Regions from separate parts of the Homo sapiens genome. Here all the other regions are linked to region 3. Evidence: fine-mapped expression QTL. A gene starts in region 3. Each other region holds a variant in brackets. All regions are shown on one strand. Distances are between the middles of the regions. Region 1 overlaps LRP11 (LDL receptor related protein 11). Region 2 overlaps TAB2 (TGF-beta activated kinase 1 (MAP3K7) binding protein 2). Region 3 holds the start of LRP11 (LDL receptor related protein 11).

Region 1 (5,624 bases), 24 kb after region 3:
TGGAGATGGGAAGGAAGCGGGGCTGTGGCTGGTGAGCCCTTAGAGCTCAGGGAATTTTTTTTATTTGTTGTTTTGTTTGTTTCTTAGGATGAGAGAAACTTGAGCATAGTAATAGCAGAGCCATTTGAAAGAGAAATGAGTCGATGTGTCAGTGTTCTAAAGGTCCTAGAAAGAAAGGGGGCAAGGACTAGAAGGAGGGGTTGGCCTGGAACACAGGAGGGACAGCTTCTCCCTGCTGGCTGTCAGAAGGAAGTGACAGTGGGTACAGGTAGGGTACCAGGAGGAGGTGGGTGGTGGAGCCCTAGTCATGGTCCTGATTTTCTCCCTGAAGCTGATGAGTCCCCCTGCTGAGACGGCAGGGCCTGGATCCTGAGCGTGAGGCTGGGGATGAGGTGCAGGTTTGGAGCAGCAACTGCTGCAGACAAGTGAAGGGATTGTCAGTCAAGGCCTTGGCCACCTAAATAAACTAGAACTTATGAGTTCAAGGTGGGCCAGCTGCCAACAGTGTGTGATGTAGTTCAGCAGCCTCGGGCCGGAGTGCAGAGGCAGGTCCTGGGGCTGCTCTGAGGACATGGACTTTCGGTTGAGGATGGTGTTGGGCTCGGAGCTCAAGTCTGCTGCTCGACGTGATGTGTCCCATCTGTGTGGCAGGTGCCTCAATCAGGAACCCTGAAGCTGTCCCACCTACAGGAGGGAACCTACACCTTCCAGCTGACCGTGACGGACACTGCCGGGCAGAGAAGCTCTGACAACGTGTCAGTGACAGTGCTTCGCGCAGCCTACTCCACAGGAGGTGAGAAGAAAGTCCTTCCCTCGCTTCCCACTGCTTGTGGAAGGCAATGTCGGGTTGGCGCTTTGTCCTCTGGCTCTGCGCTCCATGGGCTCTTCCATTTTATTTTTGGTTATTGCTGAATGAGAGAGTCTTTGCTAAAAACACAATAACAAAAGCAGGCTCTCTTCTGTTTTGGGCTTAGCCGATGCTACTGGGTTGGGGTGGAGGAAGCACTCCAGGGGATGAGAAGAGATGCTCCCGCTTCTCTTGACTCGACTTCATCAAAGACAATTGCTTGGCTATTCTGGGAGAGGACTTTGTTTACAGATGGATGGTCCATTTGCTGCATCTGTTCCAAGAGGGAAGCTAAGGAGTTTAGTGAAACCAGTTGAACTCGTGGAAGCAGAGAGTGGAATGGCGGTTACTGGAGGCTGTGCGGGGGACGGACTGGGAAAGGAGAGACGCTGGTCAAAGGGTACAAAGTGTCACTGAGACCGGAGGAACAGGTTCTGGTGATCTGTTGCACAGCATGGTGACTATAGTTAATGATAATGTATTGTCTGTTTCAAAATTGCTAAAACAGTAGGTTTTAAATGTTGTCATCACAAAAAGATTACAAGTAGGGGAGATGATAGATATGTCAGTTAGCTTGATGTAATCATTCCACAATGCAAACATATATCAAAACATCACATTGTGCCTCATAAATATATACTCTCCTCTTTTGTCAATTAAAAATACATATTAAAAAAACAAGGAAAAGGCATACCACAGGATTGAAGAAAGACTTGGCTCTTGGGTGTAATCAATTGCTGATATAATAAGTCACTTCAAAAATTTTAGAAAGAGAAAAAGAGTGCAGCTAAGGAGTACGGTTAAAATTAATTGAAATACGCAAAGGACCCATCAATTTGAAAGTGCTACCTACACATTTTCATAGACACTTTACGCAGATGCAGTTATATTAATAATATAACTTTAAATACATATGATGGTTCTCACATTCTGTTGTACAATGTAACAATGTAAAACTTATTTCATTCATCTATGTTTCTTACTTTTCTAAACATCTACATTTTTTTTTTGAGAGGGAGTTTTGCTCTTGTTGCCTAGGCTGGAGTGGGAGTGCAGTGGTGCAGTCTCGGCTCACTGCAGCCTCTGCCTCCTGGGTTCAAGTGATTCTCCTGCCTCAGCCTCCCAAGTAGCTGGGACTACAGGTGTGCACCACCACGCCCTGCTAATTTTGTATTTTTAGTAGAGACAGGGTTTCACCATGTTGGCCAACCTGGTCTCGAATTCCTGACCTCAGGTGATCCACCCGCCTCAGCCTCCCGAAGCACTTAGACTACAGGCGTGAACCACCGCGCCCAGCCCAACGTCTACATGTCTAAGAAAGATTAGGTCATCAAATTTTTTAAAATATCCATTGCATGGAACTTAGCGACACTAAAGATATTGTAGTATTGTAGAGGGAACCCCTCACCACACACACAATTCACTTCTGGAGAGGTGCTAAGGTCTTGTACATTTAAATATCCTGTTACTCGGTCATCGTGTATTTTCTTAGTGTATGCAGTGTGCAGGGTCCTTGCCAGGCACTGGGGATAGAGTGGTGCACTGGTGGTCCCTGACTCTGGTAAACTTGCAGTAAGTCTGTGACATTTTTGAATTCTCAGTATTCAATACTCAGGATCCAGATGGTAATTAAGCCAGCAGAGTGCAGAATGAGGATAAAAGAGTTGGAACAGGACTGTGATTTACTTGTACTATATTGGATCTAGCCTTCTATCAAAAACTGAGGTTAGTATGCATACTGGAAATGAAATTTTCTAAGGAGTTAGAGATTTTAGGATCCTAAGGACTTGTCAACTTTGATAATTTTCATAGGCGGCATTAAAAATTTGTTTGGCTGATGACAACCTGTCCAGCCAGGGGTTAAGCTTACTGTAAGGAAGCAGGGTAACCATTCACAGACAGGACAGGCACCAAACTCCAGCCCGTGCCAGCACTGTGAGGTCACCAGTGATAGCGAGTAAACAGTCTGTCCAGCTCAGCCCGGATTCCATCAGCCCTGCTAATTCATTGCAGCTGGACAGGAGAGCCAGCCAGCTACTCAAAACATTGTTGAGTCCCTTTGCTGGGCAGCTACTCAAAACATCATTGGTCCCTTGGCCACCAGGACCAGTGGAGACATGACATTGTCTCCAGCAGGGATGGCTCACTTCTGTAGATCTGGGCGCCCTCTAGAGGGCTTTCCCCCTGGGTACCGGGACTCACCTGGACAGGGTCTGAGTCAAGTGCTGACTCTGGGAGGAAGGGACTCTTGGGAAAAAGACACAGATACCCTGTCATCCCCACAGAAATCAGAAAAGGATTGCTCTTGTACAGCTGAAGTGCCTGGGAGGGAGGAAGGGCCTGCACTGATATGAGCAGATGGCCAGCACCTCACCGGCCACTTGTTTGTCCTGGTTTATTTCCTCAGGCAGCTTTCCGGGCTCCAGAGGTAAATTGCCAGCTGTAAATTTCTGGCCCTTCTCCAAGATGATAATAAACTGTATTTGAAGTAGCAGAGAGTGGT[G/A]TGTGAATCATTTTTGATTACTCAGTGGCCGCTTGAGTATAGGTCTTGTGTGGGTAACTTTATATGGAAAATAAAAAGGAATTGGTGAAGTACTAACTGCTGTCTAGAATCACTTAGTGGTTATATTGGAATAACATGCTATGAATTAAAGTTAATAAAACACCACAGAGAGACATTGGAAAATAGAGGTAGAAGAGACAAGTGTTTCCCTCCCCTGCATTGTATGTATTGGTCTTGCAATGAATGACCCAGATGTTATGGTAACCAAGGGTGACACTAGCTGAGGTAGACAGATGAGCAGGTACCCTGCTTATATGATCATAACTTGGTTCAATTTTTAATAAGTTGACATTTTGAACATTTTTCATGCTTAGAAAAATGATCAAACAGCAAGCCAGCAAGCTCTTCCAACATGATCTAACTCAGCAGTCTCCAAACAGGATGCCCCTGAGTTGTTCAAGACATTTTTAGGGTGAGAAAGAAGACAGCAGAGTTTATATTTTTGCTGATTTTTAATTTTTTTCCTTAAAATTTGAGTATATTTTATAAGATACACCCCATGTTAGTACAGTAGTATGCACGTATTATTTATAAATAAACCGGACTAGCCGGATGTGGTGGGACACGCCTGTAATCCCAGCTACTCAGGAGGCTGAGACATGAGAGTCAGTTGAGCCTGGGAGCTGGAGGCTGCAGTGAGCTGAGATTGTGCCACCGCACTCCAGCCTGGGCGACACAGCGAGACTCCGTCTCAAATAAATAGATAAATAAATAAACTGGAGATGCCTGTTCAACAATATATTATTGATCAGGATGCATGATCAAAAAAGTTTGGAGGCTGCTAATCCAAAAATAGATAGAAAATTTACAAATATGGATCCATCTCCAAAATCACCAAAGAATAAATAAAACCTTGAGATATCTGGGATTTTCATGCCATGAATTTAAGAAACCTGACGAGGAACTGTATCCTGCTTGATATCCAGCGTGTCCCCCACCTCCGCTCCCTGCTTCTTCCCAGTGGCCGGAGCTGACTCTCCTTCAGGCCCATGTTCTCAGTCATAACTGCAGGCTCTTTGCTTCCTCTTCTTCCGCAGGAGCTTCTATCACCATTTATTTTCTTTAACTTCTCTTCCTCCTGGATCAATATATCTTCAAATTGCCTCACACCAAGATAGACTCCTTTTCCAACCTCTTGATTTAACCACGTTTCAATAAAAGATGTGTCCAAGGCCGGGCGCAGTGGCTTACACCTGTAATCTCAGCACTTTGGGAGGCTGAGGCAGGAGGATTGCTTGAGTCCAGTAGTTCAAGACCAGCCTGGGCAACATAGTGACACCCTGTATCTACAAAAAAAAAAAAAACAAAAAAAAACCAAGTGTATGTCCAAGATTTCACTTGGGTTTGTGAACTGTGCTCAGCCATTTGGTTTTGAAGGAATATCATATAATCTGCCACTTCCCCATGTTCCTGAGAGAATTGTCTAGTCCACTCTGTCCCTGTAAAACCGTGGAGCTCCTGTGACCTGCTTCTAGCCTTGTGCCTTAGTCCATGTTGCCAGTACCAGATAGTCACCCGGTTCTCCTCTAGCTAAGTCTAATAAAGTTGGCTTAATCAAGGGAGAGGGAAAATGCATTTCAGGAAAATATTTGTAGCTCCTATGAATTGCACTGCAAATTAAAAGCTCCTAAGAACTCCAGAAGGGAGAAATGTCGTTATTTCTTTCTTTTTTTTTTTTTTTGAGACAGAGTCTCCCTCTGTCGCCCAGGCTGGAGTGCAGTGTCACAATCTTGGCTCACTGCAACCTCTGCCTCCCAGACTCAAGTGATTCTCCTGTCTCAGCCTCCCGAGTACCTGGGACTACAGGTGCATGCCACCAAGCCCGGCTAATTTTTTGTATTTTTAGTAGAGACGGGGTTTCACCGTGTTAGCCAGGATGGTCTCGATCTCCTGACCTTGTGATCCACCCGCCTTAGCTTCCCAAAGTGCTGGGATTACAGGTGTGAGCCACCACGCCTGGCCAATGTCATTATTTCATGAAACTAAATTCATGCCAGCCCATAACTAAATTTTGTTTATTCTCTACAGTACCAGGGACGTTATGATAATCAACAAATAGGATTCAATAGTAAAAACTTAATCTCAGTGAAAAGTATTACTTAGGAGACAAGAATGTAAGACATAGCATATGTAAAATAGTACCTCTGGGCCAGGCACGGTGGCTAACACCTGTAATCCCAGCACTTTGGGAGGCCGAGGCAGGTGGATCAGTTG
Region 2 (5,000 bases), 470 kb after region 3:
CTTTGCATCCTTCCCAACCCCAAGCATGTAAATGAAAATAAGCAAACATCTTCTTAATGAATTCATTTAAGAATGCCAAAGTTTGAAGCAATTCTAGAGAGGAAGGTTGCTGAACAGGAAAAATTTTCTAAAATTTTGCTTTTCAAAAGTAACAGTTTTCACATTTAATGGATACACTAACCTTTGGGTTTTGGTGGCACAGGACCTACAAATCCAATATTGTCATAAAAGTTATGAATAGCGCTGGGGTTAAAATGTGGTCCTGAAATATATAAAAAGTAAATATATCAATGCTTATAGCTCAAAAACAACTTTACTTTTTAAAACAAGTATTTCTTTCTAAAAATAAACACGCTATAAGAAATGCTTTTCATTTATTTTGCCCCTCTAACCTCGAATTATATGTAAGATTTCAAAACATATTTCAAATATATTATCTTAGGTATAATGTAGTACTCATAAACACGGGTAAGTGGTAAACTGTGAAAGAAGTCAAATTAATGCTGGTAAGACATTAATAGAAGTAGAAGTAGATCCCTGTTCTATGTGGCAAGTTAAAATAACTTAAAATTTCACAATTTAAAATGTAATTTTAAACGATCAAACATGGACTTAAGTAACTAAACAGCTTTACCTCAAGTAAATATAAAAACCTTGCACTATGTAATAGAATGGTTAAAATTTTACACAAAAAGAGTAAGTTCAAGGATTGTAGTTTCTAGAACAGCACCAACTTTTTAGAGTTAAATTATGGTATTTTTCTATGAATGTTTAAAGATAAATAGCTTAATCAACATTTAAAAAGAATAAAAATAAAAATAATCATCTTCCAGTTGAACAGATTCTAGAACACAGTCCCAAGTGTGATTAAAGACTTCTCTTTTGGTTAGATTCCTTCCCCTTCCTGTCTTTTCCATTTTATATCTTTTTATTATTTATCCAACTTCAGAATTAGGTTTAAGTGATAACATTTCCTTTTAGTTCTCTATGGAACTGAATTAAATTGTAAACATTATTTACTATAAGAAAACATTGCTTGTCATTAATAGCTCAAGTATAAGAAACTATCATTGTCTAAAGAATGTATAAACCTTATTTTTACTATCTTCTATATTTTATCAGTTAAGATAGTGCCATTGAGATGGGGGTGACTTTTTAAATATATTCTTAAAAGTCTGTCTGGCTCCAAAGCCACATGTTCTGAGACAGTAAGATTATGATTGATAAGTCTGTTTTTAGCCACAGAAAAACTGCTGGTGAATTAAATACGATGAATTTCAGCTACAAATACACTGAACTTTACCTCGGGCTTGAAAAAGATCAATTTCTTTGGTTAAGCAGTCAATGTCAATCTGGAGTTGTCTATTACAACTTCTCAGCTGCTGCATTTCTTCAAGCTGAAAAATAATTCTATGTAAGTAAGATTTGCACTGAATTCTTAGTCATTAGTTAATAAAGAATGGAGTTTGGCACAAGAAAGTAAGGACAGAAAAACAAGAGTTAAGAACATCTGAAGAAAACTAGATAGAGATATTACACTTATGTTAGATGGCCTACTCTCATGTTCAAGCAGAGATCACAACAGTTACATAAAGACTTACGGAAGGTATCTGGGATATAGAATTTGATCTTTTCAGGCGCCTTCGAGTTAGATTATTTTCCATTTCATTAACCTCAGATTTTAATTTATCCAGCTTTTTCTTTTGAATCTCAAGTTCTCTTTGAAGTCGTTCCATTCTGGCCTTCTGGTGTACCAAAAGAGCTGCAACACACATTAGTAAACATGAGGACCCACCCACTTTAATCAATTAACCTTTAAGCAGACTTGGAAAAGCAAACAAGAATTTGTCAGAAATCCCAAAGCTACATTAAAACAAAATATTGTAAGTTTAGGCATTTAAAATTTCAATTTTTTTTTTTTTTTGACACAG[AGT/T]TTTACTCTTGTTGCTCAGGCTGGAGTGCAATGGTGCGATCTCGGCTCAGTGCAACCTCTGCCTCCTGGGTTCAAGTGATTCTCCTGCCTCAGCCTCCCAAGTAGCTGGGATTATGGGCAACTGCCACCACACCCCACTAATTTTGTATTTTTAGTAGAGATGAGGTTTCACCATGTTGGTCAGGCTGGTCTCGAACTCTGGACCCCAGGTGATCCGCCTGCCTTGGCCTACCAAAGTGCTGGGATTAGAGGCTTGTGCCACTGTGCCTGGCCAAATTCCAAACATTTTAACTGAAAAATTGTTTTAGTCATTTAAACAAATGCCACTTTTTAAATGTTTTCTAGGATTTGGAGAAATTCACTTTATGAATGAAGACAGCATTTTTAGGCTACAGCTTCTCTAAAGGTTTTCGTCTTTTCAGTTAACCTACTTACTACTGTATCTAATTCACATCTACCCTCGGAAAGGACAAGCTCTCTTACTTCAGAGTTTGTCATGTTTGGTCTATGAATGAAGCATTCTAATATGAAAATGTTATAGATATTTTAGAAGGGAATGTAGAATCCATTTTGATGTATGCAACAAATAAAACAGGCAGATTGATTTCACTCCACATAAATGTTAACATTAAATTATCCCAATTGCCACTTATATTTTTGTATATTCAGATTATATTTTGTGAAAATATCTTCCAAGATCTTTAAAGAAACAAAATAAGCAATCAATCCTGCAGCATGAACTACTTGGGAAACCATAATAAACTACAAATACTGGTATATGTTTTTGTGATCTGTCCCTGGACATGAATCTCATCCTTTAGGATACTGGACTGGAAGTGAAGATACTTGAATCTACTTTTTATAAAGAAACAACATGGGATGATTCTATCTTGAGAAAAATAAAGCAGATTTGGAAAAGAACTTTAAACAACCTCTAGAAATAAAAGTCACTGAAATGAAAAAGCCAAACAGATTACAGTAGATTACATACAAAGACAGTTGGTGACCTGTCAGATAGATGTAAGAATGTTACCCAGAATGCACAGATAATGTGACAGAAAAAATGAAAGAAGAGTTCTGAAAGGTCTCACAGACATCTAAGAAAAAAATTCCAGGCTGGGCATGGTGGCTCACACCTGTAACTCCAGCACTTTGGGGAGGCCGAGAAGGGTGGATCATCTGAGGTCAGGAGTTCGAGACCAGACTGGCCAACATGGTGAAACCTCGTTTCTACTAAAAATACAAAAAGTTGCCGGGCGTGGTGGTGGATGCCTGTAATCCCAGCTACTTGGGAGGCTGAGGCAGGAGAATTGCTTGAACCCGGGAGGCAGAGGTTGCAGTAAGCCGAGATCACACCACTGCACTCCAGCCTGGATGACAGAGTGAGACTCCAACTCGGGGGCGGGTAGGGGGAGACAGAGAGAGAAAAGAATTCCAGAAGGAGACAACAGAGAGAATAGACAAGAGGCAAGATGTGAAGAGATATTGGCTGAAAATGTTTCAAAATTGAAGGGAAAAAAGGAAGTAACAAATTTTAGAAGATAAAATAATTTGTTCACCTAATTAAATTATACAAGAATACAAATGAATAAAGGTATTTCCAACAAAGTCTGGGGAAATTCAACAATCACAGATAGCTGCTGAAATAACTACTCAATATATGTTCTGATAAGAAGGAAATTAAACACAAAAGAATGGAATAAGATGAGTAAATCTAAAAAAAAAAAGCTCTGACAATAAAACAAAGGAAAAGACTATGGCAGGGCAGGGGAGCAGCAGACATTGTCTAAAACAAAGTGAAAATAAAACATTGGAAAAGAATAACAATACACTGGAAGTGCAAAAATCAGAGGTGAAGTATTCTAAGGTCTTGAAGGTATTTAAGAAGAATACAGTTAAATGTTGCTAAGCCAAATATACATGTTCAGTATTTAGGGATCTGTGCTAAAGGAAGTTAAAACAGAATGTGCAGTTTCTAAATTCAAAGACAGAACCTAAGGAGAAATGAGGGAAATTTAATTAAACCTAGATAGCAGGAAAGGAGGGGATAAAGGAAAGAAATACAAAACAAAAACCAGACAGGGATAATTCCAAATATACTAGAAATCACAATGAATGCAACCTAATTAAACATATCTGTTGAGATGAGATCAGTAGACTGAATTGTAAAACCTCAGCTATATGCTGCTTATAAAAAACACTCAAAACATAATTAACTTATCTATTATTTTAATAAGTTGAGGGTCTATGTGTCAGATGTTGTTGTAGGCATTTTGGAAGTCCATGAACAAAATAGGAAAAAATCCTTGCCCTTGCGGAGCTCACGTTACCACGGTAGCAGAGATTGGGGCCAGGGAGTAGGGCAAGAGAAAGACTCTAAACAAAGGGTAAACAGGTAGGCAAACTATGGCCCATGGGCCAAATCTAGCCCACTGCCTGTTTCGTCATTAAAGTTTTATTGGATACAGCCTTGCTCATTTGTTTACTTGTTGTCTATGGCTGTTTCCATTTTACAACAGCAGAATTAAATAGTTGTGACAGAGATTATGTGGCCTACAAAATCCTAAATGATTACTATCTGGCCCTCTACCAGATCACGTAGAGCCTTGCTGACCATATTAAGGACTCTGAATAAAATGGGGATCTATCATAGCACAGACAGGTTCAAAATAAAAGGACTCAAAATAAATATCTTGCACTTCAGGCACTACTCTAAGAAGCATAAAGTAATAGCAGTCAATTGCTGGAAGTATCTGAAGACTGTGGTGCACTGAAGGCAACAACAAAACCCAAACCCAGCTCCACTCCTGACTAAATTGATGCAATGCCTCATAATAATAACCTGAAAGAAAAAGAGATGTCCTCATTTCTGGGTGCAAATACCATTTACTTTAGTCTCCTCTGTTCCTTTACACATAGTGTGTGGCATTCAATAAAAAATTATGAGACATACAAGCAGGAGAAAAATGTAATTCATCATCAAGAGATAAAGTGATCAACAGAACTATACTCAAAGATGATGCAGCTGGAATTACCTGACAGAAAACTTAAAGATGTAACTATGATT
Region 3 (5,624 bases):
CCTCACCAGATATCAGCGTCTGCCAGCACCATGATCTTGAACTTCTCAGCCACTAGAATTGTGAGGAATAAATTTCTGTTGTTTAGAAGCCTCCCAGTCTGTGGTATTCTGTTACAGCAGCCCAGCTAAGACACAGGTTATCTCATTCCAACATTCAACAAACTGACCTACGAAGTCCAATCTCAATTTGATCCACTCTTACTCTTAATGATCTATCTTATAAAACAGAAACACATCTTCCTGACATTTTCATCCTCACATAAAAATTCTTCTATCCATTGATAAGGTTTTGATGTTTAGGCTTTTAAAACAAAGATAGTTTATTTCTGAAAAAAACTGAAAAGAGAACTAGAAAAAGAAGATAAATCACAATGCACAGTGCAATGAAACTTCGTTTTTAAAAAATAGCCTTATTAACATATAATTGACTATACCCACTTAAAATACACAATTTGATGAACTTTGATCAATGTATTCACCAGTGAAACCATCACCACAATCAAGGTAATGAACACACCTATCACCTGCAAAAGTTTTCATGTGCTTCTCTGTAATCCCTTCCCTTCCTACTCAAACTCATGCCTCTTGTCACAAGGTTTCTCCACTCTGGCTGTTGGGAACGAACTATTGCCTGGCCAATGCAAGCTCAGAAGTTTTTCTGCCAGCTTTTTTCTAGTGGTTGCCTCTCTGTCTTGGGAAGTTTCCTCACATGCATGTACCTGGTCGAACTTCTGCTGAAGACTCAGAGGAACCCTGCACAGATCTCCAGAGCTCCCTCCTTCCGTTGCACTCTCTCCTCTCTGGTACTCTAGCCACCCTGGCCTCCCTGAATTCTCAGCTCTATTTTCCAACTCAGAGTCTCTTTTGGTTCGCCTGTCTGCATTGCGGCTTGGAAACCCTCTCCAGGCAGTAAGCTGGAGCAAGCAGCATGTTCACTTCCTTTGTCTCCCTTCTCTTGGGCCCTGCATTGCCTGTTGCCCAATGTCTGAAAACCATTGTTCCATACATTTTTTTCACAGATTTTTCATTTCAGGTCACAGAGTAAGTCCAGTCCTTGTTGCTCCCTCCTGGCTGAAGCAGATGTCAACACTTATTTTTAAAAAATAGAAAATCATTTACAACAAGCTCATTGCAAAAAAAAAATTCAACAAAGTCTTATAAATTATAAAAGTCAGTATTTCCCCTTCAGTACTTGCAACTCACAGCCCAGAAATAACCACTGCTCACGGTAAACACAACATTAAATAATTTCCACTTCTCCCAAAAAGACCTATTGTAAAGTTGCAGATGCAGGAAAATCTTTGATGGTGCTGGAGGGATTTAGAAATGAATGCCCCTGAGAAATGCTGTCCTCTCCCCTGTCCACTTCCCTACCACGGAACATGTGAGCTAGGGCTCACTCTATACTGACTTCTCTTTCACGGTCCCAAAGGCAGGAGTGAGGTGGTCAAAGTCTCTGTGAAGGCACATAAAATCATGTATGTGAAAGTGTTTGGCAAACTTTGAAATCATGTACAATTCTTAGTTAATATTATATATTATCATGTTATTTTTAATATTAATAACTTATATAACAACTAGTCCTTGGAGGGTTTGATGATACCCTCAGTCAGCATTTTCATCACTAGTGAAAGTTTCTCCTCATAACAATCCTGCTCAAGCTCTCCAAGGTCTATGGCAAAAAATAAAAATAAAAAATAAAAAGCATTATGTTGCTTCAAGGTCATCTTACAATGACTGCAGTTGTGTGGGATGAGTATGCCATATGAGGAAGAATCTCCAGGCCGAAGTGGTACAGTCCAGACACAGCCTTTAGAGCTAAGAGGCCATTTCTTTTAGCCTCAAAAATCACTCAAATATACCCCTGCAAAAACTTTATAATTTCTCCCTTTGATGGAATGGCAAGTAACATTGAGCTTTTTTCTTTCTTTTCTATTGCTACCTTTTAATTTTACCTCCTACTCTGATCTGGATCTGCAAGCAATGGGTTCCTAAATGTCAACTCTGGAGATAATAAACACATAGCAGAGACTGATATTTTCCCACCAATTATTTATTCTTTCAATCCTAAAAAATACAGACACTTAACAGTGTTCTATTTACAATGTGCGCATCCAGGCAAAAATTTCCGGACAGGCTAAAAAGCAAGAAAATGCGATCCACAATCAGGAGAAAAATGAATCAACAGAAACTGATTCAGAAACAAACAAGATGCAGATGCTGCTCACAGAAGTCTAGAACGCCAAGGTGAAGCCCCCACTGGGTTGGACATTTTCTTATTCCTTATGTCATTTAAAGCACAACTCCCGAGATTTTACGTGATATAACCGCTAGAGGCCTCTCTGTCACAGGCTGTATTACTCCCAGGTCCCCATGTTGGCTGTGTTCAGATTTTTTGTTATATTTGTGGAAATCTGAGTGCATGTGACGACTGCTATTTATGGGTTTTGTTTTTATTTTTAAAGACAGGGTCTTGTTCTGTCCCCCAGGCTGGAGTACAGTGGTGTGATCACAGCTCATTGCAGTCTCGAACTCCTGGGTCCAAGCCATCCTCCCAACTCAGCCTCAGGACTTACAGGCGAGTACCACCTCACCAGGCTTGATTTTTGTGTTTTTAAACAGACTGAACATCTTTCAGTACTTCCCATCCCCACCCCTCCCGGCCCTGACTCCGCCACCCCAACCCCGCCCCACTTTGTACTACCCAAGCACATCTTGGGAACATGATGCGGAAAGTCAGGGACGCTGGAGGTGAAGGACTGATGACGCGCTACGGTGGTCCTAGGTGCGCGTGCCCCCTCTCTGGAGTAGTCCCGGGGGTCACGAGGATTTGAAGACAGGCCCTCCCTTCCCACTGCCCCCATTCCCCCGAATGCCAAGCCCCTGTGGGCAGGCGCCCTGGGCAGGTGTGGTTGGTTGCTAAAGCCTGCTGGGCCCAGACATGAACCCTGCCCTAGCTGGGCAGCGGCGCGGGAGCAAAGTTGTTCTGAGGCTGCCCTCCCCGGGGCCTGCTCTCCCAGCCCTGGAGGAGCCGGCGCGAGACGCGCGGGGGCGGGGCCGCGCGGGGGGGCGGGGCTCACCAAGGCTCCACCCCGCCGCGGCCACTGTTCGCACACACCTGGTGCTGATCAACGCCGAGGCCGACTCGTCGCCACCCAGCGCGCCGCAGGCCGGGGCGGAGAGGCGCAGGGCGCTGGGCAGTCTCCGGCGAGGGCAAGGAGCGGTGCCCGGCTGGGCCGGCTATGTCTCCCGCTACTGCGGTTCCCGCCGGCGCCCGCGACCTCGGGGGAGCAGCCGGGTTCGGGGGCGCCGCGCTGTGAGGCCGGGGCCTAGAGCCAGCCGCGGCCGCGCAGGAGGGGCCCAGGGCCCGCGCTCGCCCGCGTCCCCGCCTTCCTCCCGCGCTCAGCCCCGCCTCGGCTCGCTGCCCTTGGCTCTCGTCGCCATGGCCTCCGTCGCCCAGGAGAGCGCGGGCTCGCAGCGCCGGCTACCGCCGCGTCACGGGGCGCTGCGCGGGCTGCTACTGCTCTGCCTGTGGCTGCCAAGCGGCCGTGCGGCCTTGCCGCCCGCGGCGCCGCTGTCCGAACTGCACGCGCAGCTGTCGGGCGTGGAGCAGCTGCTGGAGGAGTTCCGCCGGCAACTGCAGCAGGAGCGGCCTCAGGAGGAGCTGGAGCTGGAGCTGCGCGCGGGCGGCGGCCCCCAGGAGGACTGCCCGGGCCCGGGCAGCGGCGGCTACAGCGCAATGCCTGACGCCATCATCCGCACCAAGGACTCCCTGGCGGCGGGTGCCAGCTTCCTGCGGGCGCCGGCGGCCGTGCGGGGCTGGCGGCAATGCGTGGCGGCCTGCTGCTCCGAGCCGCGCTGCTCCGTGGCCGTGGTGGAGCTGCCCCGGCGCCCCGCGCCCCCGGCAGCCGTGCTCGGCTGCTACCTCTTCAACTGCACGGCGCGCGGCCGCAACGTCTGCAAGTTCGCGCTGCACAGCGGCTACAGCAGCTACAGCCTCAGCCGCGCGCCGGACGGCGCCGCCCTGGCCACCGCGCGCGCCTCGCCCCGGCAGGGTAAGCGCGCGACTGAGGGGCCGGCCTTGGCCAGAGCGCTCGAGACCCGCAGCGCCCTCGCCAAGTTGGAAGCGAAACACACTCGTGCCAAGTTATTTTAGCCGCGGGCACCCAGAAGAGTTTCTGGCATGGGTTTCTCTGTCTTAGGGAAGAGGAAGCCCAGTAGTTTGGCAGAAGCGGGCGGGCGGGCGCGGTGACGTGCTACTGGAATTTTTCTAGGCTTGAAGAGAAAGGCTGATCTGAGAGGATTCGTGGAAATATGACTTAAAAGGGGAGAAATGCTGAGAGAAAAAAGTTTGTTTTAGTCTCATGGGTTGTATAAGGCATGGTTTGTGTTAAGTAATTGCAAGAGCAAAATCTAATTAGATGCCGGGCTTCTCGTAACACCCACTCCTTTTTCTTGACGTGGCTCTCCTGACTTTGCCTGCGGTGGCTTTCATCATACAAAAATGGGAGGAAAACTTCTGGTCCCTTTTATAAAAAGTGAAAAGAGGGGACTTGATTTTCGTTGAAAATAAGAAACTTTAAGGCCGGGCGTGGTGGCTTATGCCTGTAATCCCAGCACTTTGGGAGGCCGAGGAGGGCGGATCACCTGAGGTCAGGAGTTTGAGACCTGCCTGACCAATGTGATGAAACCCCATCTCTACTAAAAATACAAAAATTAGCCAGAGCTGGTGGCATGCGCCTGTAATCCCAGCTATTCGGGAGGCTGAGGCAGGAGAATCGCTTGAACCTAGGAGGCGGAGGTTGCAGTGAGCCGAGATCGCGCCATTGCACTCCAGCCTGGGCAACAAGAGCGAAACTCCATCTTAAAAAAAAAAAAAAAAAAAGGAAAAGAAAATAGGAAACTTTAAAGCGTGTTTCTTAAGGACTAAAAATGATGCTGATTCGACGGTTTGACTTTTTGTAGATGCTCTGAATGAGAGAATCAGGACACATACAGGAGGCACAAAAATGGTAGTGGTTGGACATGAATGTCACGGAGGGAATAAGAGACCTTGATTGTGCCCACGTGTGGTCAGGCTCCGTGTGTTTAATCATGCCCTGTTGCTGTTTGATTTATAATAGCACGAATGATATCAGCAAGATGGGGGCGGAGCTCAGCCCCTTTGGAAGTGTGGATTCTCCAAAACCTGTGGATCCATTGAAAGAGTCTGGAAATCTGTGTCCATCACATCCTGCCTCCCTCCCCACCTCTACCTTAGATGAGGCTCAGAATCCTTGTCAGGGGAGCAGATATCAAAGGGTCACCCTGCGACTGCTTGGCCTTGAGGCAAACACTGGGAAGGACTCCATAGCTTTCCTTCTGAAGTGGAGGCAGGCAGCACTTTCACTTGGACCCCCCATCAGCATCTCTGAGGCCCACCACGGCTGTTGCACACACATCCTCTCTGCCCAAACACAGACCAAAATATCCCAGCAGCAAAGAAACAAAGTCTTTTCTCTGTGTTCTCACTACTTACCTGGAAGAAACTGACATTGCCAAAGTGAGCTTTCCTATAAACCCAGAGGAAACCTTTGAAAAGGAAAATAAACAAGGAAAGAATATGCCATAGAACAAAAATTTTA

Evidence for each region.
Region 1: its variant is fine-mapped to the expression of LRP11 in subcutaneous fat (GTEx, PIP above 0.99). The same link has a PIP of 0.9 or more in aorta, atrial appendage, coronary artery, esophagus mucosa, esophagus muscle and fibroblasts.
Region 2: its variant is fine-mapped to the expression of LRP11 in prefrontal cortex (GTEx, PIP above 0.99).

What each region holds. Positions count from the first base shown.
Region 1 is chr6:149,838,152-149,843,775 of GRCh38, reverse strand. It overlaps LRP11 (LDL receptor related protein 11), which reads left to right. Exons shown (of 7, transcript NM_032832.6): 3 at 652-793. It overlaps RAET1E-LRP11 (RAET1E-LRP11 readthrough), which reads left to right. Exons shown (of 15, transcript NR_182438.1): 11 at 652-793. Among named protein-coding and RNA genes, the nearest start is that of RAET1E-AS1, 23 kb to the left of the region's middle. The variant G/A (reference allele first, on the strand shown) is at 3,351.
Region 2 is chr6:149,394,366-149,399,365 of GRCh38, reverse strand. It overlaps TAB2 (TGF-beta activated kinase 1 (MAP3K7) binding protein 2), which reads right to left. Exons shown (of 7, transcript NM_001292034.3): 4 at 1,602-1,762; 5 at 1,304-1,397; 6 at 182-262. Among named protein-coding and RNA genes, the nearest start is that of SUMO4, 3.4 kb to the left of the region's middle. The variant AGT/T (reference allele first, on the strand shown) is at 1,932.
Region 3 is chr6:149,861,839-149,867,462 of GRCh38, reverse strand. It overlaps LRP11 (LDL receptor related protein 11), which reads left to right and starts at 3,104. Exons shown (of 7, transcript NM_032832.6): 1 at 3,104-4,055. The coding sequence starts at 3,443. It overlaps RAET1E-LRP11 (RAET1E-LRP11 readthrough), which reads left to right. Exons shown (of 15, transcript NR_182438.1): 8 at 2,119-2,247; 9 at 2,466-2,578. RAET1E-AS1 (RAET1E antisense RNA 1) reads right to left here and starts at 3,965. Exons shown (of 2, transcript NR_045126.1): 1 at 3,081-3,965. RefSeq lists an enhancer at 2,793-3,293 and silencers at 2,950-3,399, 3,470-3,529, 3,670-3,779, 3,950-4,099.